Linked DNA regions of Homo sapiens. The protein of the gene in region 3 interacts with the protein of the main gene of each other region in a biochemical or structural test. Each region holds a gene or a part of one and is shown on either strand. Other genes may lie near its edges.

Region 1 (3,500 bases), on a different chromosome or scaffold from region 3:
CTGTTGGCAATCACTGGCATCCCTTGGCTTGTAGATACATCACTCCAATCTCTGCTTCTATCATCACATAGCCTTCTTCTCTGTGTCTGTGTGTGGCCTTTTCTGTCTCCTATCAGCACACTTTCATTGGATTTAGGGCCCCCTCTAATCCACTATAATCTTACCTCCATCTTTACATAATTACACCTGCAAAGACCCTCTTTCTAAATAAGGTCACATTCTGAGGTTTTGGGGGTGGATATGAATTTTGGAGGGATACGATTCAACCCACTACAGATACTGATCAATCATTTCCCAAACAGAAATGCAGTGTTATCCTTAACCCTTTCTCTTATCTCCTGCATCTACATAATTATCAAATCCTGTCAATTCTCCTTCCTTAGTCTTCAATTTATCTCCTTTTCATCAGCCCCATTACCACTTTCACTTCAATAACACACTTGTCTGTATAACAAACTCCTTTGCTATAACATTGAATAAACCTAGTTATTACTCTCATTACTGTGCCTGTACCTAAACAGATATGCATTGCTAGAGAAAATCACACAACAGTACAGACCGGTTGCACCATAATTTATGATAACTAACCCCAAGCCATTCCTCAACAATGCCTGGCAGTCCTGTTTCTCTGGCCAATTGGCTCTCCCACTCTTCCATTACTATCTCAAACCTCTTCTACTAGCCTCATGCTCTTACTCTCACCTACTTTTAGCAACTGACGTGGGCTCCTATTTTACAGAAAAAAAAAAGCCATCAGACAGAAACTTCCACAACCTCCTACTGTCTGCTCCCATTCTCTCCCTCTTCTAAGTAGCTGTTATTACAAAATCTTACTAATATTAACTACCCCACTCTTTTTCTATATTTGGCTTTTCTCTCAAGTAGATGCTTCTCACAGACTTATGTTTTATTTGTTTTTATTTAAAAACAAAATGAAAACAAAACCTCCCTTGTACCCTACAATCTCACTTCTTGCTATCTATTCAGCCACACTCACTCTTTCTGTCTGCTTCTCTCTCCACCTCCTCCATCCCCCATCAGACATAATGTGTTTGTGCAGAGACTGATTTCTCTAGCTCCGTAGCCTCAGGCCTCTTACTTAATCCCTGTAAAGTTGGAGTAACTATACTAATAAACCTGTTTCCAGGACTGTTGTGAGAATTGGATGAATCAGTCTATGTAAAAGACTCAGAAGAGAGGTTGGCCCATGGTAACTGATCAATAAAGTTGGCAATATTGTTATTGCTAATAATATAACACATTCATCTATCTATTCAGGCAACCAGCTGCACAAGATTGTCACTTGGATTTATCCTGAACTCCCTCATCCCTCTGTTCCAATCCATCTCTAGGTTTTTTTTATTTTTACCTCTCCAGTTTCTCTTGTTCTGAATACCTTCTCCTACCTCTATTATCTTACTCCACACTATCATAATCTCACATAAACAGAAACCTTCTAAACAATTTTCTGCATTCATTCATGTCATTCTCTGCAATTTTCTCCATACCATAGTCAGAGTGAACTATTCTAACTTCATATCTGAGGCTACGAACTGGTTTAAAAGACTTCCCACGATTATGATAAAGCCCCAAATATTTTTGCATGGCCATAAAGTCATGTAGAAATAGTCCCTCTCTGTCTGTTCAAACTTATCTTGTGCCTTGCTTCTTTTGCCCTCTTCTCTTGTTACACATACCAACTATCTCTCGAATCTTCAAATGCACTATGCGCTTGCCCACCACAGGTGCTTTTCACTTCCCATTCCCTCTACGGCAATGTTGAATGGCATTCCTATTTCTCTTAGCTTAATTCATTCCTATTTACACATAATTCCTTTATGTCTTAGCTCAATAACTTCCTCAGGGAAGCCTTCTCTGACATCCCAAAATAGGGTCTCATTTACTCTTATGTACCTTTCATAGTATTCATCAAAGTTGCAATTTCTCATTTACATGATTATTCTCCCAACAAATTCCTCCAATATAATCCAAACTCCATAAAAGCCATGACTACATCCCTTTTTTGCTCTCCATTGTATCCTAAGTGCCCAATACAGCATCTGGCACATAATTCGTGTTCATAAGTGCGTACTGGATCAATATTAAACTTAAGCTTCAATGTTGCAAAACAGCCTATTTAAAAACAGGACAGATTTAAAGCAGCAAAGGGACAAGCATATCACCAGTTCATTATCAATGTGGCTCTAGATCAAAGTTAAAAGTTTCTCTACTGTTGGCTATGAATAATAAATCACTTCAAAGAGATACTAACAGAGCAATTGCTGAGGGAAAGGAGGATGTGAAAGAAGGTGTATTGTTGTGCTGTTACTTTAAAAAAGGAGTAACAGGCAGAACACTCTTTCAAGGCAGAGGTGAATTTTTTAAAGTATTGGTTCACAATCTTTATTCTATTCCAACACACCTACTACTGCTAGTATTACTATTCCTACTGTAAACCTAAAAGGAAAAGGCTGAGGCACAAAATATACTTTAGTTTACCTGAGCCAAAATGAGGACAGCTACTCAACACATATTTCCCAGATGCCTGGGGAGTGCTCTGGCACCTGAGTTACAAGCAGATTTTAAAGGGAAAAAGGAACAAGGCAGATACAAAGTTGCTTGATAAGAATTCTCATTGGTTTACAATCACTGATTAGTGACTGGCTATTCATTGTTGCACTATAAGGTATGACTTATGGTGTCCAGCATATGGTATTTTATGGCTACTTGGCGTCAGTTAGTCTAAATCCTACATAGAAGGTGGCTTCCAGAGATAACTGCTTAGGTCAAAAGGGAGTGCCATAACTGCGGTTTCATTCCAATGCCTCTCTAGGCCTCACAATGGAAAGGAACTCAGTTGTGTTTTGTTTTGTTTGTTTGGGTTTTGTTTTGTTTTTTCAATAGGTTTCTGGGGAACAGGTGGGGTTTGGTTATGTGAATAAGTTATTTAGTGGTGATTTCTGAGATTCTGGTGCACCCATCACCTGAGCAGTGTACACTGTATCCAATGTGTCATCTTTTATCCCTCATCCCCTTCCCACCCTTTACTCCAGATCCCCAAAGTCCATTGTATCATTCATATGCCTTTGCATCCTCCTAGCTTAGCTCCCATGTATGAGTGAGAACATACATTTTGTTTTCCACTCCTGAGTTACTTCATTTAGATAATGGTCTCCAATCAATTCCACCCAGGTTGCTGCAAGTGCCACTATTTCATTCCTTTTTATGGCTGAGTAATATTCCAGGTGTCTGTATATATACACACCACATTTTTTTAATCCACTTATTGATTGATGGGTATTTGGGCTGGTTCCATATTTTTGCAATTATGAGTTGTGCTAGTATAAACATGTTTGCAAGTATCTTTTTCATATAATGACTTCTTTTCCTCTGGGTAAATACCCAGGAGTGGGGTTGCTGGATCAAATGGTAGATCTACTTTTAGTTCTTTGAGGAATCTCCACACTGTTTTTCATAGTGGTTGGTGGTTTACATTCCCA
Region 2 (3,500 bases), about 48 Mb from region 3:
TGGGTGGCTATGTGGGAATATATATATATACAGGAATATATATATATAGGAATATATATACAGGAATATATATATAGGAATATATATATGGAATATATATATGTATATATTTAGGAATATATATAGGAATATATATAGGAATATATATAGGAATATATATATATGAATCTATATATAGGAATATATATATATGAATCTATATATAGGAATATATATATATGAATCTATATATAGGAATATATATATATGAATCTATATATAGGAATATATATATGAATCTATATATAGGAATATATATATGAATCTATATAGGAATATATATATGAATCTATATGAATATATATATGAAAATACATATATGAATATATATGAATATATATATGAAAATATATATATGAATATATGAATACATATATGAATATATATATGAATACATATATGAATACATATATGAATATATATACATATATATATATGGCTGATTAATCAGGATCCATCAAATACATGCTAATCTCCTCAAACCATGACCCAACTTCCTAAGGGATCTCCCAGAACTGACTACTCACTTTTTTTTGTTTGTTTTTTGTTTGTTTTTTTGAGGCAGAGTCTTGCTCTGTCACCCAGGCTGGAGTGCAGGGGTGCGATCTCAGCTCCCTGCAACCTCTGTCTCCCGGGTTCAAGTGATTCTCCTGCTTCAGCCTCCCAAGTAGCTGGGACTACAGGCGTGCACCAACACATCAGGCTAATTTTTGTATCTTTAGTAGAGACGGGGTTTCACCATGTTGGCCAGGCTGGTCTCAAACGCCTCACCTCAGGTAATCCACCCACCTCGGCCTCCCAAAGTGCTGGGATTACAGGCGTGAGCCACCACGCCCAGCCTCCTGCTTCTCTTAAAAAGCTGTATTGAAGAGCTCTAAAACTATTTGGTAGAAATGGCCTAACCTAAGGGTCTAAGGAAGGTTAAGTATCCACTGTATTCAGTAAATTGCTAGGTATCAATGGCAGACAAAATGACTTCTACTGAAGATCCTAGTCTATCAATAGCACTACCCTTCTCCTAGTCCACCAGTCTCATAAATTTGGGAATAAAATTTGATTCAGGGCAGTGCACGGTGGCTTACACCTGTAATCCCAGCACTGTGGGAGGTGGAGGCGGGCGGATCACCTGAGATCAGGAGTTTGAGACTAGCCAGGCCAACATGGTGAAACCCCGTCTCTACTAAAAAATATAAAAACTTAGCCAGGCATGGGATCAGGCACCTGTAATCCCAGCTACTCAGGAGGCTGAGGCATGAGAATTGCTTGAACCTGGGAGGCAGGGGTTGCAGTGAGCCAAGATCGTGCCATGGCACTGTAGCCTGCGTAACAAGAGCAAAACTCTGTCTCAAAATAAATAAATAAATAAATAAATTTGATTCAGTCTTAAAATACTGGTTAATTCTGCTACCAAAACGTCTTGGGAATCCTGCCACTCCTCTTTGTCCCCACCATAACCGTTCTGATTCAGAAGCTCGTTATCTTTTCCTAAGATTGCTACAAAAACTCCTAGGCTTCCTAACCCCAAGCTCTCTTCTGCTCTATATATTAATATCAGAATTCTCTCTTTAAACACTATGTTTATCACCATATAATACATAAACCTTCCCCGGCTCCCTTTCTACTACCACATAAAGTCTGAATCCCTTCATTCTCCCTACCCTACCCATCTTATCAATCTAATTTCTCTCTGCTCTACAATAATCTTAACACTTGGAGACCACACCATGTTGGTGCCACCCCAGACAGAACCTTGCTCGTGTTGCTCCTCTAGTCTGAAATGGCCTCTTCTCTTTCTTCGACCTGAATAATTCCTAACTACTCTGCCTTTGACTATTCTTATTAGCACCAACCTTGCACTCTTCTCTAAATGTACCTTTTGGTGTACATAACGATTCAGCAATTATGTACCATCTTTTTATTTTGTGTTGCTTTGTTAATAACATTTCCCAACAAGCATTTAGGCTTGAGGCCATGCACGGTGGCTCATGCCTGTAATCCCAGCACTTTGGGAGGCTGAAGTGGGCGGTTTACTTGAGGTCAGGAGTTCGAGACCAGTCTGGCCAACATGGTGAAACCCCCGTCTCTACTAAAAATACAAAAAGTATACCGGGTGTGGTGGCAGGTGTCTGTAATCCCAACTACTTGGGAGGCTGAGGCAGAGAATCGCTTGAACCCAGGAGGTGGAGGTTGCAGTGAGCCGAGATCACGCCACTGCACTCCAGCCTGGGTGACAGAGCAAGACTGTCTCAAAAAAAAAAAAAAAAAAAAAAAAAAGAATGTAAGCTCTATGTTCTCCTGTACTATCTCTCAGAACACTGAGAACTGCACTGAGCCATCTGATAAATATTTCAAGTCCAACCAACCGTCAAGCGCCACAGATCACAGGTCATCACCAGGAGGGCTGCTAGATTGGTTCCCTACATGATTTGAGGCCAGGCTGTGACTGATGACTACAGATCCCATCACACCACTTTGTAGTGGCTGCTCCCAAATACTGGAAAGGAGCAGGGTCTGGAAAGCAAGACTCTGAAATTACTTCACTCTAACTTTTCAAAGCCCCTTTCTCACATATTCATGTCTTAGTTTGCTATTCTTTAAAATGAGGAGGAAAATCTTAAGGAAGTCAACAATGGTAATAGAGGGATACTAGTGACTTTAAGGCCTACGCTGAAATCACAATAGAAAGACAATAAAATGGTTTTAAATTGTGGCAGAGGAAGTTTCGTATCCAAAGGGATTTCTAATTGTTGAACTAATGGAACCATCCTCCAGAGATCACTGAAAATGGGAGAGGCCTTCAACCTGTCTTTACTAGGTTAAGAGACACCCTATTTGGAGTCCAGAGTAAAGGGCAAGAGGATCCCTTGAAGTCCTGCCAGATTTTTGTGATTTTTTCCTGAAATCTGTCCAATTGTTTTAGTACAATAAATTGGGGTATTCTTCCAGACCTTAAGAACACCTTCCAGGCCTGGCGTGGTGGCTTGCACCCATAATCCTGGGACTTTGGGAGGCCGAGGTGGGCAGATTGCTTGAGTTCAGGAGTTTGAGACCACTCTGGGCAACATGGTGAACCTCATATCTACAAAAATTAGCCAGGTGTGGTGGCACATGCCTGTAATGCCAGCTACTCAGGAGGCTGAAGTGGGAGGACCACCTGAGCCTGGGGAGGTCAAGGCTGCAGTGAGCCATGATCATGCCACTGCACTCCAGCCTGGGCGACAGAGTGAGACCCTGTCCCAAAAAACAAAAAACAAAACCACCTTCCAAATCCTATTCCAATTCTATTAGGGGCCATGGATTTCTCAGTTCCTCCCCATGTTTCCATGTCCCTGTACTTCCATCTTCTCTCCCATTTGATCAGGCAGCTTTGTTCTCTGTTCTTTTCAAGCTTTCATTTTCACTGATTTTCAGGAAAGCCAGACAATGATTTCTGAAAAACCATTTGGCCCACTGAAAGGACA
Region 3 (3,500 bases):
AAAAATGTAAAAATCATTCTTAGCTCATGGGCCATACAAAAACTGTCGGGACTTGGCCAAGAGCCATGGTTTGCCAACCCCTAGCCTTGAGCATCCAGTGCCTGTGTAGTGTTTGAATCCAGCATCCATTTCTTTGCGAGGTAGTTGTTCTCCTCCTAATTGACAGGGCTGAGGCATTCCAGGATTTCCTTGCCCATCTCAGCATGGCAGGGACCAGGTACCCAGCCATCAGCTGGGGCAAGCCCCTGGCTCTACAGTTTGGAGGAACAGGAGGCTGAGCCCCTCTTGGGACCCCAGCACACAGCTCACCTTGTTAGCAGGACAGGCAAAAGTCGGAGCCTCAGACCAGCAGCCTCAGAGGGGCCTTTGGAAATCCCCTGGTCTGCACCCTCATGTTTCAGGCAAAGAAGGCAAGACTCAGAAAGGTGAGCGATCTGCCCGAGGCCACTGAGGGTGACAGGGCAGAGCTGGGACCACACTTTGGGCTTCTGACTTTGTGCAGGGTTGGAAGGGACTGCATGGGCCTGCGTAGAGATGGCACTCCCTTTATTGGTCACCACAGCCAAGAAAGTCACAGCATCCCCAAGGGCCACCTTCCTTGGGAAGGAGCCATGCCAGGTTTGGCACCCACACAGAACATGGCACCCAGCCCAGCCACGGCAGGGGATGCTGCCAGCTGGGCTCCACGGCAGGATCAGGGAGGGGCTCTGTGACCCCTTTCCTGGGCTCATCCCATGTTGCAGGCAGAGTTTGGGAGCCAGTGCTGCTTTGTCAAGAGTGATGCCCTCTAGCATAACACCTACCGCCCACCTGCTTCCAGGCAGTGGGTCCTGCCAGGATGTGGGAAGGACAGCCCTGTCACCTCCTGGGCTGGTCACCCCGCAGCCCAGGGTGCTGGGTGGCTGGGGCCAGAGAAGAGAAGAAGGTCTGGTTCCTGAGGAGACTCCCCAGGCAGAAAAGGGCAGGCTTCTTTAGGGAAGCAAGGTGTGAGGGCAGTAATCATTCTGGAGCTCTGAATTTCCCTCGATAATGATAAGATGGGGAACAGTGTTCAGAGTGAGGGAGGGTAGAAATTTTTTTTTTTTTTTTGAGACAAAGTCTTGCTCTGTCACCCAGTCTGGAGTGCAGTGGTACAATCCTGGCTCACTGCAACCTCTGCCTCCCTTGTTCAAGCGATTCTCGTGCCTCAGCCTCTGGAGTAGCTGGGATTACAGGTGCCTGCCACCATGCCTGGCTAATTTTTGTATTTTTAGTAGAGATGGGGTTTCGCCATGTTGGCCAGGCTGGTCTTGAACTCCTGACCTCAGGTGATCCACCTACCTCGGCCTCCCAAAGTTCTGGGATTACAGGTGTGAGCCTCTGTGCCTGGCCAGAAACATTTTAAGAATAGAGTTCTCTTCCCAATTTGGGGGCTGATCCCTGATGTTTGCAGGGACCCTGATTTCAGAAAAAAATATCAAGTGGGGCCAAAGGCACTGAGAACTACCAAATGTAGCCCATTAACTCTGCCACCACCCCTTGATAATGACATCAGGTAAAGCAAAGAGCTACTAGGTGGACATTATCTCACTGGAGTCCTCGCAATCACATGAGATAATAGTATTATCCTCCTATTTTATAAATGAGGAAACTGAAACCTGGGTGAGCAAATTACTTAACCTAAGGCAACCAGTTACTGAGTGGAAGAGGCAGAATCTGAACTGACCCCAAAGTCCATAAATTGCCTCCACCCATGGTGGACAGGAGACATACACTCAACATATAAATAATGATGAGTGCACCAGCCAGCCATTATTGGGTCATCTTGTCTATCCCGACTCCACCATTTCTAGGGAAGACTTTTATTTAATGGTGGGGGTAGGGAGGCTCAGAGGGTGGGACCATTATCAAGAGCTCCAGGAAAGAGGATCTCATCATAGTCCTTTCAAAAGTTCTGGCCCATGTCTCCCAGAGCAAGGTGTCCAGTCTCTTCAGGGTTACTCATGCTGTCAGGGAGCTTTGCTTCAAGACCCGTTTTTTGTTTTGTTTTGTTTTGTTTCTCGCCCAGGCTGGAGTGCAGTGGTGCGACCTCGGCTCACTGCAACCTCCACCTCCTGGGTTCAAGCGATCCTCCTACCTCAGCCTCCCGAGTAGCTGGGATTACAGGCACACGCCACCATGCCTAGCTAATTTTTGTATTTTTAGGAGAAACAGGGTTTCATCATGTTGGCCAGGCTGGTCTCAAACTCCTGGCCTCAAGTGATCCACCCGCCTTGGCCTTCCAAAGTGCTGGGATTACAGGCATGAGCCACCACACCCGGCCTAAGACCCTTTTCAATTTTTTTTTTGACAAGTTCTTGTTCTGTTGCCCAGGCTGGAGTGCAGTGATGCAATCATGGATCACTGCAGCCTCAACCTCCTAGGCTCAAGCGATCCTCCCCTCTCAGCCTCCCGAGTAGCTGGGACTACAGGCGCGTGCCACCACACCTGGCTAATTTTTGTATTTTTTTAGAGATGGGGTCTTGCCATGTTGCCCAGTCTGGTTTCGACCTCCTGGGCTCAAGCAATCCGCCCACCTCCCTTTTCAGTTTAAAACCAAACCTCACACTTGCCTCACTACCCCTCCTCCTCTGCAGATGTAGCTGTGGAGATTCTAGGAGCAGATGGGCTCTCTTTCAGACAGGAGGTCTGGCGGAGATGCGCCCACGGCTTTTCCTCTTCCAGACTTGCTGCTGAACCACTGGCCAGCTCCAGCCAGGCCCAGCTACCAGCTCTGTAGTGATCCTGGATCCCAGACCCTTGGCCTGAGCTGTTGTGAGCCCAGCCTGTGTGTGCATGTGCATGCAGCTGTGTGTGTGTAAGCAGCTGTGGGAGCCAGGACAAGATTAACCTTGGTCTGCTCCCACCCCCTGGATGTGGGAAAGTGCCCACTCAGCAGGGAATGCCTGGAGGGCAAAGGTGAAAAGTCCAGGGAAGGGGACGTAAGGGGTTATGGTGGGACACAGAGCCGAGGAAGAGAAATGTGACTTATTGCCAAAGGTGGGCTAATCAGGTGGGCCTGGAACCAGGCCAGCCACTCACCCTGAACAACAGAGCAGAACAGGGACTGCAATTAATTAAGTACCAGGGGAGGGTCCTCCTACCTCAGGGAAAGAAGGCGCTGCCAGAGGGCCCTCAGAGCAAGAGACTGCTGCCTCTCCAGCTCCCAGTGCCTGCCTCATTCATAACTGCCAGAAGGTAGGGCCCCCACAGCACAGATTCCTGGCCCCTCCTGGAAGATTTCCATCCAACCCATTCCCCTACCACCACCACCATTCTCTTACACAGAGCCCTCCTCCCTAACCTGGAAGAGCAGTAAAGATTCTGTCTAACTAAGGGCTTGGCCTGATGGGGCTGGGAAAATCTACCTTGGTCTCTAGACCAGCCCTGGTGCAATCACCAGGAAATTCCCTTTCCAAACAAGCACCACCAACCACTATAGCTACCAGTTATTTAGTCTCTGCTACATGCCAGGCACTGTG
Region 4 (3,500 bases), about 60 Mb from region 3:
CTAGAGAAGGTTTGCTTTTGGTCTGAGGTGGTCACTGGTTTCTGAGGTGCCAAGCCTGGTTGGAGGCACAGATAGTCAGCATTCATAAAGCTGCGTAGAACCATGGGGTCCCAATGGGGACATGAAACTAAATGATCCAGAAAAGCCCGTGGACTTTCCACCAGTTGTATTGAATACATACCTGATGGTGTGAGAATACAGAAAGGGGCTGTGGTGCCTGCTCTTAAGAAAGCTTATCTTGGCTGGGCATGATGGCTCACGCCTGTAATCCCAGCACTTTGGGAGGCTGAGGAGGGTGGATCACTTGAGGTCAGGAGTTTGAGACCAGCCTGGCCAACATAGTGAAACCCCATCTCTACTAAAAATACAAAAAGTAGCCGGGTGTGGTGGCGGGTGCCTTCAATCCCAGCTTCTCAGGAGGCTGAGGCAGAAGAATTGCTTGAATCCAAGTGGCAGAGGTTGCAGTGAGCCGAGATCGCACCACTGCACTCTAGCCTGGACCACAAGAGCAAGATTCCATCCCTCCTGGCCAAAAAAAAAAAGCTTATCTTGTTGGGGACACACGACATGGATCCTGAAGCTCCTCTATAGTCTACTGGACTGAGTCCAGTGCTCACAGTCTAACCTACTTCTTTTTTTCAACATATAACTGTGCTCTGATCTTTCTGAACCATTCACCATTCTGGGAATGCATCTCCTGCTGTTCCTTCTGCCTGGGATGACTTCCTCTTCCTAGTCTGACTACTTGTATTTCCAGAATACATTCTACACCTCAGGCCTGGGAGGCAGGGTAGATGGTGGAAGGAATCCAGACTCAACTGGGTTTGAATCCAGACTCTGCTTATCCAAATAGTCAGGGGAAACCAAGTTAACTTTTCAGAGTCTCTTTTCTTTTTCCTTGTAAAATGGCCCATCAGGATTGAATCAGAACCCATAAAAAGTACCTAGGCTGGTTCCTAATCCTAGTAGGGAGCTCAATAAATATATATAACAATAAGAAAGCTTTTGTATTTAAATATTCCAGCACCCACAACGTTGTTCAGCAGTTAAACTTCATAACTCTCCCCACTGGACTCCAGGCTCTTTCAGGGCAGGACGGTAGCTATTCTGGGTTGAGCCCTGATACCTGCCTCGCAGTAGGTATTACATAGAACTTGTTAAGTACATGAGCGATAACTGAAATTCAGAAGATGAAATGATACCTTCAGACTGTGGTGGTCATGGAAGGATTCGTATATAATCTAAAATTTGAACTGAGCCTTGAAAATGGTAGGTCTTAAATTCGTTCACTTGGAACAAATGTTTACTTAGCACGTACTATGAGTAAGTGCTCATGGGGCATGAGCAAAGGGCAGGCTCGTGTGGGTGACCATGCATAGACCAATTGGGGCTTGCTGAGGAGCTGGGGGCCTGAGGTAGGGCTGGATTATGCTGAGCCTCAGTGCCTGAGCAAGAAGCTTGAACTTCTTTTTTTTTGAGACGGAGTCTTGCTCTGTTGCCCAGGCTGGGGTGCAGTGGCACGATCTTGGCTCACTGCAAGCTCCGCCTCTTGGGTTCACACCATTCCCCTACCTCAGCCTCCCGAGTAGCTTGGACTACAGGCGTCCGCCACCACACCCAGCTAATTTTTTGTATTTTTAGTAGAGATGGGGTTTCACTGTGTTAGCCAGGATGGTCTCGATCTCCTGACCTCGTGATCCGCCTGCCTTGGCCTCCCAAAGTGCTGGGATTACAGGCGTGAGCCACTGCACCCGGCCGAGCTTCTTTTTCTTGAATTATTATTATTATTATTTTTGAGATGGTAGTATAATAAAACCAGGGTTAGAAAGTTTGTCTCGAGGCAAGACTCTTGTAGTAGTTTAAACATACCAAAAAAAAAGTGGGGGGGTAGAAATGCAAGTTCAAAAAGTCACAAAATGTCGATTTGGGGAAAGCACTTGTCTCAGCTGGCACTCAAGGCGGTTGAGCTGTCTATCAGCAGCATGAGGGTGTCCTCTCTCTGTGGGTGCCTCTGTTTCCACACAATATTGGCTCTATCCCTCTCCCAACTCATAGAACTCTTAGATAAGCAATCAAACTGTGAAAGGCCTTGAACTCCAGCCCAGAGTCTTGCCATATAGGACAAAGTATTGTTTATGGTGGCTGGAGGTAGGGAAGGTACTTAGTATCAGCAGGCCAAATGAACTTTGGGATAAGTAGATTCCATTCTTGATCATAAATGAGAAATAAAAACTACTCAGTGGGTCTGGGATCACTCTTCTCCAGATAATTCTCAATGGAATGGATTTCATTGATTTCTCATATTTGAAATTTATCCCTGGCTAAGACCAAACAGTAACTATCACAATGGGAAAGTACACTAGGCAAATACATATTTTAGAATCTTGCTTCTCCTTCTATTTTTGATATTAATTATTTAAAGTAAATATACTTGAGTATTTGAATTTCCATATGCTTTGCTTTTCAGAGGAGAAATCCAGGCAGCCTTAAATATGATCTGCATAAAAATATAGGATCTGTTCTAGGTAAAATATATTTGAAGAAGGGTGAAATTGAGTTGTCTTTATCTCTTCCTTGCTAGAGACATCTGTCAGTAGCAGCTCAGATACAGCAGGATTTTTTTGCTTATGCTGTTGGAAGGAACAGCATGTGCCAAGGCTCTGTGGCAGGCTCTGAAGGAGGCCAGCCATGGCTGGTGTGAGGCATGAAGCCTTGGAGTCAGGGCTGATGCCTGTAGGGAATTCTCAGCCTGTCTATAGTTGCTGGCTTAATGTTGCACAGTCTCCACCAACTGTATTTTCCTAACAAAAGTCTAGTGGGTTTGTTTTCTTCTTTCTTGTTACACAGATGCACACAAGTGCTGCAAGAACAGCATTCCTCAAAGTGCACACTGTGGTCAAGCGTCCTGAGAATGTGGCTTTTTTCTTGCTAAAGTTCAGAGTGTTTTATAGGCAAGCATGGAGTTCAGTGGAAAGCAAGTAATGTCTAGGTTTAATGTTGCCGGAGAGACCCTGCCCTTTCTTTTCCTTATGCCTCAACAAAACAGAAGTAACTTACTCTATGGTTTCATACTAGATTATACAATCAGATACCCTTCCACAGTCAGAGTAACTAGGGTTAAACATTCCTCACCAGCAGTCCTGCTAAGTGTTTGTTTTTTTTTTGAGATGGAGTCTCGCTCTGTTGCCCAGGTTGGAGTGCAGTGGTACTATCTTGGCTCACTGCAACCTCCACCTCCTGGGTTCAAGCAATTCTCCTGTCTCAGCCTCCCGAGTAGCTGGGACTACAGGCGTGTGCCACCACACCCAGCTGATTTTTGTATTTTTAGTAGAGACGGGGTTTCACCATATTGGTCAGGCTGGTCTCAAACTGCTGACCTCAGGTGATCCTCCTGTCTCAGCCTCCCAAACTGCTGGGATTACAGGCATGAGCCCCCGCGCCCAGCCCCTGCTAAGTTTTTAGTGTTTAGTGTTTTCATGGATTGAGTGTTGGTTATGTAA
Region 5 (3,500 bases), about 27 Mb from region 3:
ACAGAGTGACCTCCTAAGGTCTGTGTTACCCACCCTCCCCAACCCACTCCAATAAAACAAACTACAGTCAAAAATTACACAAATATTCTCAAGACAGAAACCAATACTGATGAAATTAAAATCTAAAACCATAAAAACCCTAGAAGAAAACCTGGGCAATACCATTCAGGACATAGGCATGGGCAAAGACTTCATGACTAAAACAGCAAAAGCAATGACAACAGAAGCCAAAAATGACAAATGGGATCTAATTAAACTAAAGAGCTTCTACACAGCAAAAGAAACTATCATCAGAGGCAACAGGCAACCTACAGAATGGGAGAAAATTTTTGCAATCTGTCCATCTGACAAAGGGCTAATATCCAGAATCTACAAGGAACTGAAACAAATTTACAAGAACAAAACAACCCCATCAAAAAGTGGGCAAAGGATATGAACAGACACTTCTCAAAAGAAGACATTTATGCGGCCAACAAACATATGAAAAAAGCTCATCATCACTGGTCATTAAAGAAATGCAAATCAAAACCTCAATGAGATACCATCTCACGCCAATTAGAATGGCGATCATTAAAGTCAGGAAACAACAGATGCTGGAGAGGATGTGGACAAATAGGAACATTTTTACACTGTTGGTGGGAGTGTAAATTAGTTCAGCTATTGTGGAAGACAGTGTGGCGATTCCTCAAGGATCTAGAACCAGAAATACCATTTGACCCAGCAATGTCATTACTGGGTATATACCCAAAGGATTATAAATCATTCTACTATAAAGGCACATGCACACATATGTTTATTGCAGCACTATTTACAATACCAAAGACTTGGAACCAACCCCAATGCCCATCAATGATAGACTAGATAAAGAAACTACCATACATATACACCATGGATACTATGTAGCCATAAAAAAGAATGAGCTCATGTCCTTTGCAGGGACATGGATGAAGCTGGAAACCATCATTCTCAGCAAACTAACACAGGAACAGAAAACCAAACGCTGCATGTTCTCACTCATAAGCAGGAGGGAGAGCTTTAGGACAAACACCTAATGCATTCAGGGCTTAAAACCCAGATGATGGGTTGACAGGTGCAGCAAACCACCATAGCACAAGTATAACTATGTAAAAAACCTGCATGTTCAGAACATGTATCCCAGAACTTAAAGTAAAAAAAAAAATAAATAAATAAAAGTACAGTGAGCTCCCAGCTATCTGTGCTAGAAGCAGAATAGTTTATGCACTGAGAAAAAGGAGGAGGAGAGTAGCGGGGCCCACCCTCTGCCTCCTCAGGCACTCTGTGAGGTTATCCCTGGATCCCTGGGAGCAGGAAGAGGGCTGACGGGTGAAACTGAAGACAGAAAAATATAGCTCTGAAAAGTAAGCTGCACTATAATGAAGGCGTGAAGGACACCAGCTGCACCCAATAAGAAGGTGGTGAGAGGTGCCGGAGTGTTTTCCTCGGCATGTGTTACTGACACATGTGGAACCTGTTTCTCTGTAGGTCTTTAAATCAGAGAAGATTCTCCTAGCCCTGGGATAATTAGGGACACTTATTTAAAGGTTGAGGATTCAACTACATGACCTCTGAAGAATGCATCCTTCAAGCCTGAAGATATACGTAAAGCAAAAACCATTTATTTGACATAGAATTAAATAATTTATCACTTGTGTCTTAACATTTAAGCCCATCTATAGAACTACATGAAAACAAAATTTGTCTGTTGTGGTAATTCAGGCATTCTTTCAACAAAGATTTAACATGTCCAACACATACAGCAATGCTGGAGAAGCAAAGTACAGAAAGATTAGAGAGGTGAGGGAAACACAGAATTTTCCACTGTAAGCAGCATAAGAGATTATTCAGAGGAATAGGAGGAGGACAGAATTAATCAGGGAAGACTTCTTACAAGGGATGAAATCTAAATCAAGTCTGAATTTGTGATGATCACAAATTGGCAGACAAAGAATGACAGAAAGAGAAACCAAAAGGGCATTTACACATTAAGGACTACCCATAAACAAAGGCATGGAATTGCAGTTTTCTAAAGAAAAAATTAGCCTGGAAGCTATGGAGGGACCATGATGGAGAACAAGGTCAGGCCCAGTGGACTATGGCCTTGGACACTCTGAGGAAGGTGCTCCAACACAAAGCAAAACATTGTGACTGGTTCTTAAAAAACTACTCCCGAGACACATGCAAACGCCCATGGCTCTTCCTTACCTTTCCCATAGAAGAATTTGCGGTAATAATAGGCCCCAAGGTCAATGTGTTCTATGATGTAGCGCTTCACTTTCTCCCTGTGAATAGGCTGGTTTTCTCTGGGCACTTCCAAGACGGAGACACCTGCATTTGTGCAGTGAGAGCTGAGTGACGATTCGAAAGAGCAGCTTTCCCCAGAACTGAAAGAGGATGAGTTGGCTCGAGAGAGCGCAATCCGCCTGTCGCCTTCCCCTCCAGTCTCATTTCTAAAGTAAGGACAACTAAGGACGAGGTCGTTACTTTTCCCATCACCCTCATCGGCATCCAGGTTCTCTTTGGAGTTGAGGTCCTCCTTGCTCCCTAAAGGGGACTCACAGTTGCCTGTCTGGCCCGTAGGCATCTGAGTCTGGGATGCTGCAGATGCCCCAGTGGTTATGTTTTTCCTTTTCCCCACATTAGCCCTCGTAGCCATGGCTTCGTTGATATTAAACAAAATGCTCTGGACATCATAATGTGCAAAACATCGCTGACAATTCCAAGGGCGAATGCCCCTCTCCAGTCGGCTCTCCTCCAGCTCAGACGTGAACTTGAAAGTTTCGTGCTCACTTTTAACAGTTCGAAGCTTTCGGAAGAGAGATGTTTCCACCGACTCTGATTTCAACCTCCGTTTGAAAGGCTTGTCCCTGTCTCTCCCCATCAGGAGGGCACTGTCCACATAATCTAATCCTGAGATGCGGACAAATTCTCCCCTAGAAATCTGTGCTGCTGCATGAAGGCTCGGAGAGATTGCAGGGTCACAGCGGAAAAATTCAGGGAACCCAAAAGGGACCATTGCTTTGTGGTCATAATTTTCTACTCGGTACCCTCTGAGCATAGCAAAAAAGTTTTCACCAGATAAGCCTTGCCTGTCGATGGATGAAGTACTTCCATACTCCCTGTGCAGGGCAGCCCCGGTGTTGGGGTTGACTGCATTTTGGTCTAAGACATCTTCGGCATCAATGTCACTGATAGTGACATCACTATTGCTCCTCTGTCTTATGGGGTGAAGTCCTCTTTGGGGGGAATGGACAAAGATGTCTCCGATTGTGTACTTGGCCTCCACGAAGTCCAGATCGAGCTGTTCATCTTGCTGACCTTCACTCTGGTCACTCTGCCCATTCTGCAGGACAGAAGTGATGCTTTCATAACTGGTCTGAGACCGGCTTTCCCACAGTGCCTTGCATGTTAGCTCCTTGGAACAGTCCTTTTTAGGAGGCCATTCAGACACCCTTGCTCTCACACCCATCTTGGGCACAGCT
Region 6 (3,500 bases), on a different chromosome or scaffold from region 3:
GAAGCATATCTTTTAAACTAAAGCCACTAAAAGTACATTTCTTCAATAAGCATTTTACATACCTTATTTTTTTCTGAATTTTCTGCCACTGTCTTCAGATGAGCTGAAAGGAACTTAAGTGTTTCATAATGATGTTCAGGCAAATCGTGAATCTGAAACAGATTATTTTCACAATGGATTCAGAGGCTGAATTTTAGTTGTATCCCCCAAAATATAAAATAATACCTACTAGTCTTTTTAATGTTTTCAGACGATCTAGAGGATCTTCTTTACGATTGGCTTCAATAAAATCAGCATATTTATCTGACGACAAGAACAATAAAACAAATTTATCTTAAATTGCCTAGGTGAATTGTAATCTAGTTTCCCTTTAAGGATCAATTTTAAACCACAACATAGGAAAGAGTTCTAATAGTTTTGAAATGTAAATTTCTAAAATGTAAGTTCCCTGCAGGAACCATCCTATATTTACACAGCCTGTCCATTCCTCCCCCACCCTCCAACAACATCTAGTAAAGTGTCTTACATGGCACTTAAATACTTGGCTTGACTGAAAAAACATTTTTCTACTCATTGTACCTTATGATGTCAGAAGCCATTTGACTGGAAACAATAATATTAATTTGGCTGCAAACATGTATGAACAAGATAATACATATTTCACTGAACCTAAATAACTTTTATGTTTTTAATATATGAGGGAGAACTAAATAAAGCCTCCTGCTTCCTTTGACCAAGACATTTTGTCCTTGTTCAATTTAATATTCTATGGTTTTCCAATTGTAACTTGAACCATTTCATCTGGTATCTTTCACGGGAGTTAACTCACCATTTGTGAAGAGAGGCTCAGGGAGTTTTCTGAAGAAGGATTTTAGTAAACTGCTTATCACATTCAAATCTCGCCATTTCTAGGTGTACAAAATAGAAATATAGTATTTTCATATCCAGTTCCACCAAAGGGGGAAAAAAAAGGATCAGTTATTCAAATAAGCAAACTTACATCATCTTGTATATCAATATCAGCCATTCCCTTGTTGAGTTCTTCTTGCATACTTGAGATGGCTGCATTATTTCCAGGAACTCTATAAATACCTGTATATTCAAGACCTCTTTCTTCAACTAATTTGCAACATATGTCAACTATTAATGGAATATACTGCAAAACAAGAAATAAACATTTTATTTAATGCAGCACAAATGTTTAGTAGTTGTATATCACAGCTAAAATGCCCCTTTCATCCAAAAGGAAACATAAATTGCTGTTATGTAATATAAAGAATACAGACATTATAGATCTGGGAATAGATAAAACCTGCAAGAGATATTTGAGACAGTAAGAAGAGAACAAAGAGACTGAAAGAAAGAGAGGGACCCCCAGAGAGATAACATTCTAAAAAGGAAGTAACAACAGGTAAAGAGAATGTGGAAACCGTTCCGCTGAATAAAGAGTCAAGAAAAGAGGAGGAGAGAGTAATATCAATTCATGATACGAATCCTAGCATGGGTGTTTTAAATATATGCACATACATTTACATGTATTATACTTTCTTAATCAGGTCCTTGTTCTCATCCTTGTTTTAAAATGCTAAAAGCAGAAACACACGATTTGAAGACGAATTCTTACAGACCATTTCAGACAAATTCCTAATGGTTGAATAATTATTCAATTTCGGAGTCAATACATTAGAAAAAAAGCATTACAGGTCAGAAATACTTAGGGAAACTAAGGTCTGCTATGAAAAGGAAAACAGATTGACAGTCTCTGTTGTCTGAAAGGCTATATACTCAGATCCCATTATAATCAAAACTGAATTAATGACTTGAGGAAATCCGGTGGGCTGGTGTCTCCTACCCGATTAGTATGAGCTGGTGGGCAGTCATCTAGTCGGACGCCGAAAGTTCCTGTAGCAGTTGGCTTTTTCTCAAATGTCTTTCTCATGATACTTGGAATGCCTTTTCTCCATGTGCCTTTGTCTTTTGGGGGACTGGTATCATCTTTTGATTGCCAGTCAAAATAAAACAACATAATAAAATGGAAATGAGTGTCTAAATCATGACTTTAAAAACACTTTATCAATGTTTACATAAATCCAAGTCCTGTAATATAAATAATACATCCTATATTTAACAAAAATATGTTCTCTTCCATATAACTTTTACTTCATTCTTTTATAATGCGTGCTATAATTTTCTTTAAAACAGCAAAAAAAAAAACTACATAGAATCAGTGTGTCATCTTTATAGTGAGACTTCAACAAAGGGAAAAGTAATAGTTTTATTTCAAAATGATAGGACCTGAATCCTCGGAGTCATTTAAATTTGTAATGTCTCTGATTTAAGTATTGTTTGTATTTTCCCTCACTTTCGCTTTATAATGAAGCTGGTGTCTTGGGCCTCACAAAGGGAAAGGCCCAATGAGCCCAGACCAAGCCTACTATGAATTTTGAGCTAGTTGACATGGGGCCTGGTCAGTAGAAATGGTACAGAAAACATAAACGTACCTCAACGATGCCAATTTTAAATCATTATATTTATTTGTTAGAAAGCTAACATCAATACCTTTACTGAGAAGTTTCCTTTCCGACTCTTCCTTCGGAGAGTGTGGGCTTTGAGTCTTTGGCTCTGATTTAGCACCAAGCAAAGTTTGCCTGATGCTGAGACTCTGGCGAGGTGTTTTTGGCAACTGTTCTGCTTTGCTGTTGAAGGAAATGACATTTGTTAACAATTACAGTAATCCCCCTCTATCTATGGTTTCAGTTACCCGTGGTGAGCCATGGTCTGAAAATATTAACTGGAAAATTCTTGGAATAAACAATTCATAAGCTTTCAATTTTGTAGTCCTGCCCAGAATAAGAATCATCCTTTCATCCCGAGTAGCCACACTGTATACACTACCCGCCCATTACTATATGGGAAAAAATATAGCGTAGAGAGGATTTGGTACTATCTGCGGTTTCAAGCATCCACTGGGGGTCTTGGAATGTATCCTTGCAAATAAGGGGGATGACTGTACTGATTTTATATCCAAATTAACTGCAGGCAAGGTGGGATTCTCACCTCATCAGATTGTTGTATTCTTTTATTCTTCGACTAATTAGATCCCTGTTAGTGACTCCAGTGTCCTACAGAATAAAGTAAAATTAGAAAATCAATTCTAAACATAAATAAGTGATCCTTACTTTTTTGAGGCTTTCTATTGTACTGCTTTGCTTATTTAACACAAACACTACTATCATCTGTTCTCAGTGGAGCTGTTTCAAAGCTTCTATTCAACATCACTGTGTGAAAGATTTTCCAAGTGCCTCCCAACATTGCCAAAGGGTTTTGCTTCTTTTCTGTATCCATGCGATACCTAGGATAGTACCAGCAAGTAACATGTGTTCAATACTTATTGAATTGATCCGTCCATTTAAAATAAATGACTAGGAAGCAGCCAGTGTTTTCTCTAATACCAGAAAGAATGATCAGCATTTAAGAAATATACGTGTAAGTGATTTTTC
Region 7 (3,500 bases), on a different chromosome or scaffold from region 3:
CCTACTGCACCATCCACAAGGGGACAAATTCCAAAGATGAACCCACAAAAGGTCAGGAGCAAATCCAAAGAGAGGCTGAATCTCTTTAAGAAGACAGACTTAGAGACTCAAGTTTTCAGCTTCTTTCTTCTGCCCTCAGACACATCCCCGCAGCACCAGGGAGGATGCTGAGGTCAGAGTTGAGTTTCAAGGACAGGAAGAGCTATGCAGACAAGCCCATGAGAGAGGTTAGCAGACAAGTGGAGAGGCAGGGATGTCTCAGAGACGCCCATCCCCAGAAGGATGATAGGAAAAGGCCACTGATAGAACAGTGTCTGCAAGGGGTGTTCATGAAGCCAGGCTGCAAGGGAAGAAGGAGACAATGATTGCCAAGACAGTGAAACTGCAGGTATAGACACTGGATCCAGAAGTGTGCTGTTTGAAAATAATCCACAGTATTTTGAGGAGGTTGTAGCATTGAAGGAGGGTTTATTCATGAGAGTCCCTCCATTCTCCCTCCCAGGCATGTTTGGTAAACAAAAGAGATGTGGGAGAGAGTAGAGAAGCTAGATCAGGGGTGTTTGGGCTGGAAGAGGTGAGCAAGTGCAGGGAAAGAACAATCCTGGCATCTGCCTTCTCTGGAAGGCCAGAGGGAAGCAGAGGTTGGTGAGGCCCTGGAGAGAATGAGGAAAACAGGGGAGGCATTTGCTGAGACCTGGGGTCACTTCGTGAAGCTGGGGCCTGGAGGAAAGGGCTGCGGTACTGCTGCCTGCCAGGGGAAGCAAACCCGGCACCTGGCACCAGTGGAGGCAGCCAGGAGGGAAAGGAAGGACTCCTGAGTTGGGGTCAGAGGCTTTGGCTGGAATCCTAGCAGTGCAGAGAACTTCCTGCTGGGCCAGATGATTAGAAATGTTGAAGCCTCCATTTGCTCATGTATAAAATTGATGCAGTCGCTACTTCACAGGGTTGTTCTTAGGAGGAATCGAAAGAGGTACTAAGGTGTGTTTGGAAGGCCCTCCATGACCGCATCTGCTGTATAGGGGGTCCTTTCGAACAGTGTGTCCAGAAATGCATAAACCTCTCACCAAAGTCAGTGAGAGCCCAGTGGAATGGAGAAGGCAGGAGTTTTTAGCAGACTTGCCTGAAGCTTTCTTTCAGCTGTGGATGAAAAGTTTTGGACTACTCTGAGCAGTTGGGTCTCCCTGTTTGCACCTTGACAAATCCTTCAAGATTTCTGCCTTTTAATCCATTGGCTTGTTGCAGTGCTGCGTCTAAATTTAATGTCCCTCTCTTTTGCAAAGATCCAGTTACCAGGTGCAAGGCAGGAAGAGGCTGGACAGTCTCCTCTGTCCTCCATGGTTTGGAAGGGCATCATGCACTCACACTCGGTAACACCTGCATTTGAGGAAGCTAAGGCCCAGAAAAACAGAGAACTTGCCCCATTAGACAACCAGAACTAGAGTCACAAAACACAGTTGCTTGATCTGGGGAACTCTTGTCTTTCAATAGCAGTGGTGTTGGCCAAGATGCAGGTGGCTGAGGAAGAATTAAAAATCTGCAATCCCCCTTGGTTTTATTAATGGGTCTTTGATTATAGTTGAAAAGATGAAAAAACAGTCTCACTTATTAGTGAAGCGGGAAAGAAAAGGAGCATTTGACTTACTAAACACTAAGTAGATATGTGCCAAATTAAATGAAATTGGGGAAAATGTGAATAATTTTTTTTTTTTTTGAGACAGGGTCTCACTCTGTCACCCAGGCTGCAGTGGCATGACCACGGCTCACAGCAGCCTTGACCTCCCCGGCTCCAGTGATCCTTCCACCTCAGCCTCCCAAGTAGCTGGGAAGCTGGGACTACAGACACCACCGCACCTGGCTAATTTATTATTTTTTAAAAATTTTTTGTAGAGATGGGGTTTTACCATGTTGCCCAGGCTGGTATCAAACTCCTGGGCTCAAGCGATCCACCCACCTCAGCCTCCCAAAGTGCTGGGATTATAGGCATTGAAGAATGTTTTTTAAGGAAATTAAAGTATAGAATTATCTGGAAAATTTTCTGAAATTATTCCTTATTTTCCAACCGGATGGTCTATGTCTAGATTTGGACCTATGCATCGGTTGCATATAAAAGGATAGATCTTTTTATGGTATCTAGAAATTTGACAATCTTGATCTCCTATTATCCATACTTTAGAAATAGAGAAAAGATGGAATTGGAAAAGAATACATTTCCCATGGGTTCTAGCGGGGAGTGTTTGAAGCCAGGTAGGTCATCTGATTCAGTCTGATTGTCTGAGAGCTAAAGAGTTCTGCCTTCTATTTACAAATGTGTTCAAGAAGACACTGGGAGCATTTACAATTTGAAAACTTAATAGTTGAAGAGGCCTTTTGTGGTCTGATAAGGCGGCTGAGCCGAGAGATGGTTTGTTAAGACACTAAGCATGCGGAGAAGACACATTTGTCTTTTAAGCCTCTCCAGCTCCAGGAAGAGGCCTACCCCCGGCCGTGGCTTCTCTCCAATGCCAGTAGTGTGTTCACCCCACACTCTTGATGGGGCCAGCAAACAGTCTCCATTCTGAAAGTTCTGGCTGCTCCATGCATGCATTCCCTACCAGAATGCGTTCTGAGTGAATAATGAGTGGTCTATGAACTTCCAGAAAATCAGAAACTTAAGATTCTCAACTCTCTTTATGAAGCCATTGAATGAAACCAGATAGCATTGAACACCTGGTTGACAAAGTTATTCTTGGATTATATGTTTTTATATACAGTGTTTCTGGGGCTCATCAAGCCCTCTAGGTAGGAGGCCTGAAGAGGTTTTGGAGAAGCAGCATTGGGGGAACCGACTTCACAGCACAGAGGATTAATTTTGCACACACAATTGTTGCGAGCTCTGAATGAAATAATAGCAAGGAGATGGGGGAAGTTTTGTTGTCTTTTAAGTCTAAGAAGCAGCCTGAAATGCCTAGATATCCACAGGAGGATTTAAAAAATCACAAATTCTTAAGGATCTGCAAGTCCTTGAAAGGGCATTATCCAATCTCTTGCCTTCAGGGAGGAATAAACTTAGCTCATTCCAGTTAAGGATCTATGGTTTTAACAGCTTCCTGAGGAAGGGGCGTCCATGGCATATTTGGCCCTTAACACAGTGATGCCCCAGACTGGTTCTTTGAGGTGTTTTAGCAGGAGTCGAAATGGATTTCAGAGGGGTTACTCTTGGTCTCTTTTTTTTTTTTTTTTTTTTTGAGACGGAGTCTTGCTCTGTCGCCCTGCCTGGAGTGCAGTGGCGCGATCTTGGCTCACTGCAACCTCTGCCTCCCAGGTTCAAGTGATTCTCCTCCCTCAGCCTCCTGAGTAGCTGGGACTACAGGTGCGTGCCACCACACCCAGCTAATTTTTGTATTTTTAGTAGAGACGTGGTTTCACCATGTTGGCCAGGATGGTCTTGATCTCTTGATCTTGTGATCCGCCTGCCTTGGCCTCCCGAGGTGCTGAGATTACAGGCGTGAGCCGCTGTGCCC

What was found.
Region 1: the proteins of CDK18 (region 3) and GOPC interact in a test that uses a peptide from one of them, tested with the Homo sapiens proteins (one large-scale study listed by IntAct).
Region 2: the proteins of CDK18 (region 3) and ARHGEF11 interact in a test that uses a peptide from one of them, tested with the Homo sapiens proteins (one large-scale study listed by IntAct).
Region 4: the proteins of CDK18 (region 3) and PDZK1 interact in a test that uses a peptide from one of them, tested with the Homo sapiens proteins (one large-scale study listed by IntAct).
Region 5: the proteins of CDK18 (region 3) and SIPA1L2 interact in a test that uses a peptide from one of them, tested with the Homo sapiens proteins (one large-scale study listed by IntAct).
Region 6: the proteins of CDK18 (region 3) and ARHGAP21 interact in a test that uses a peptide from one of them, tested with the Homo sapiens proteins (one large-scale study listed by IntAct).
Region 7: the proteins of CDK18 (region 3) and PDZD2 interact in a test that uses a peptide from one of them, tested with the Homo sapiens proteins (one large-scale study listed by IntAct).

Annotation. Positions count from the first base shown.
Region 1 is NC_000006.12:117,592,512-117,596,011, forward strand, and holds part of GOPC (Golgi-associated PDZ and coiled-coil motif-containing protein), read right to left. Parts: intron 1-3,500.
Region 2 is NC_000001.11:157,035,743-157,039,242, forward strand, and holds part of ARHGEF11 (rho guanine nucleotide exchange factor 11), read right to left. Parts: intron 1-3,500. UniProt on the Homo sapiens protein: May play a role in the regulation of RhoA GTPase by guanine nucleotide-binding alpha-12 (GNA12) and alpha-13 (GNA13). Acts as guanine nucleotide exchange factor (GEF) for RhoA GTPase and may act as GTPase-activating protein (GAP) for GNA12 and GNA13.
Region 3 is NC_000001.11:205,507,669-205,511,168, reverse strand, and holds part of CDK18 (cyclin-dependent kinase 18), read right to left. Parts: intron 1-3,500. UniProt on the Homo sapiens protein: May play a role in signal transduction cascades in terminally differentiated cells.
Region 4 is NC_000001.11:145,700,869-145,704,368, reverse strand, and holds part of PDZK1 (Na(+)/H(+) exchange regulatory cofactor NHE-RF3), read left to right. Parts: intron 1-3,500. UniProt on the Homo sapiens protein: A scaffold protein that connects plasma membrane proteins and regulatory components, regulating their surface expression in epithelial cells apical domains.
Region 5 is NC_000001.11:232,511,634-232,515,133, forward strand, and holds part of SIPA1L2 (signal-induced proliferation-associated 1-like protein 2), read right to left. Parts: coding exon 2,224-3,500; intron 1-2,223.
Region 6 is NC_000010.11:24,594,888-24,598,387, forward strand, and holds part of ARHGAP21 (rho GTPase-activating protein 21), read right to left. Parts: intron 3,123-3,500; coding exon 3,058-3,122; intron 2,697-3,057; coding exon 2,560-2,696; intron 1,996-2,559; coding exon 1,853-1,995; intron 1,157-1,852; coding exon 1,001-1,156; intron 909-1,000; coding exon 830-908; intron 304-829; coding exon 230-303; intron 153-229; coding exon 63-152; intron 1-62. UniProt on the Homo sapiens protein: Functions as a GTPase-activating protein (GAP) for RHOA and CDC42. Downstream partner of ARF1 which may control Golgi apparatus structure and function. Also required for CTNNA1 recruitment to adherens junctions.
Region 7 is NC_000005.10:31,642,131-31,645,630, forward strand, and holds part of PDZD2 (PDZ domain-containing protein 2), read left to right. Parts: intron 1-3,500.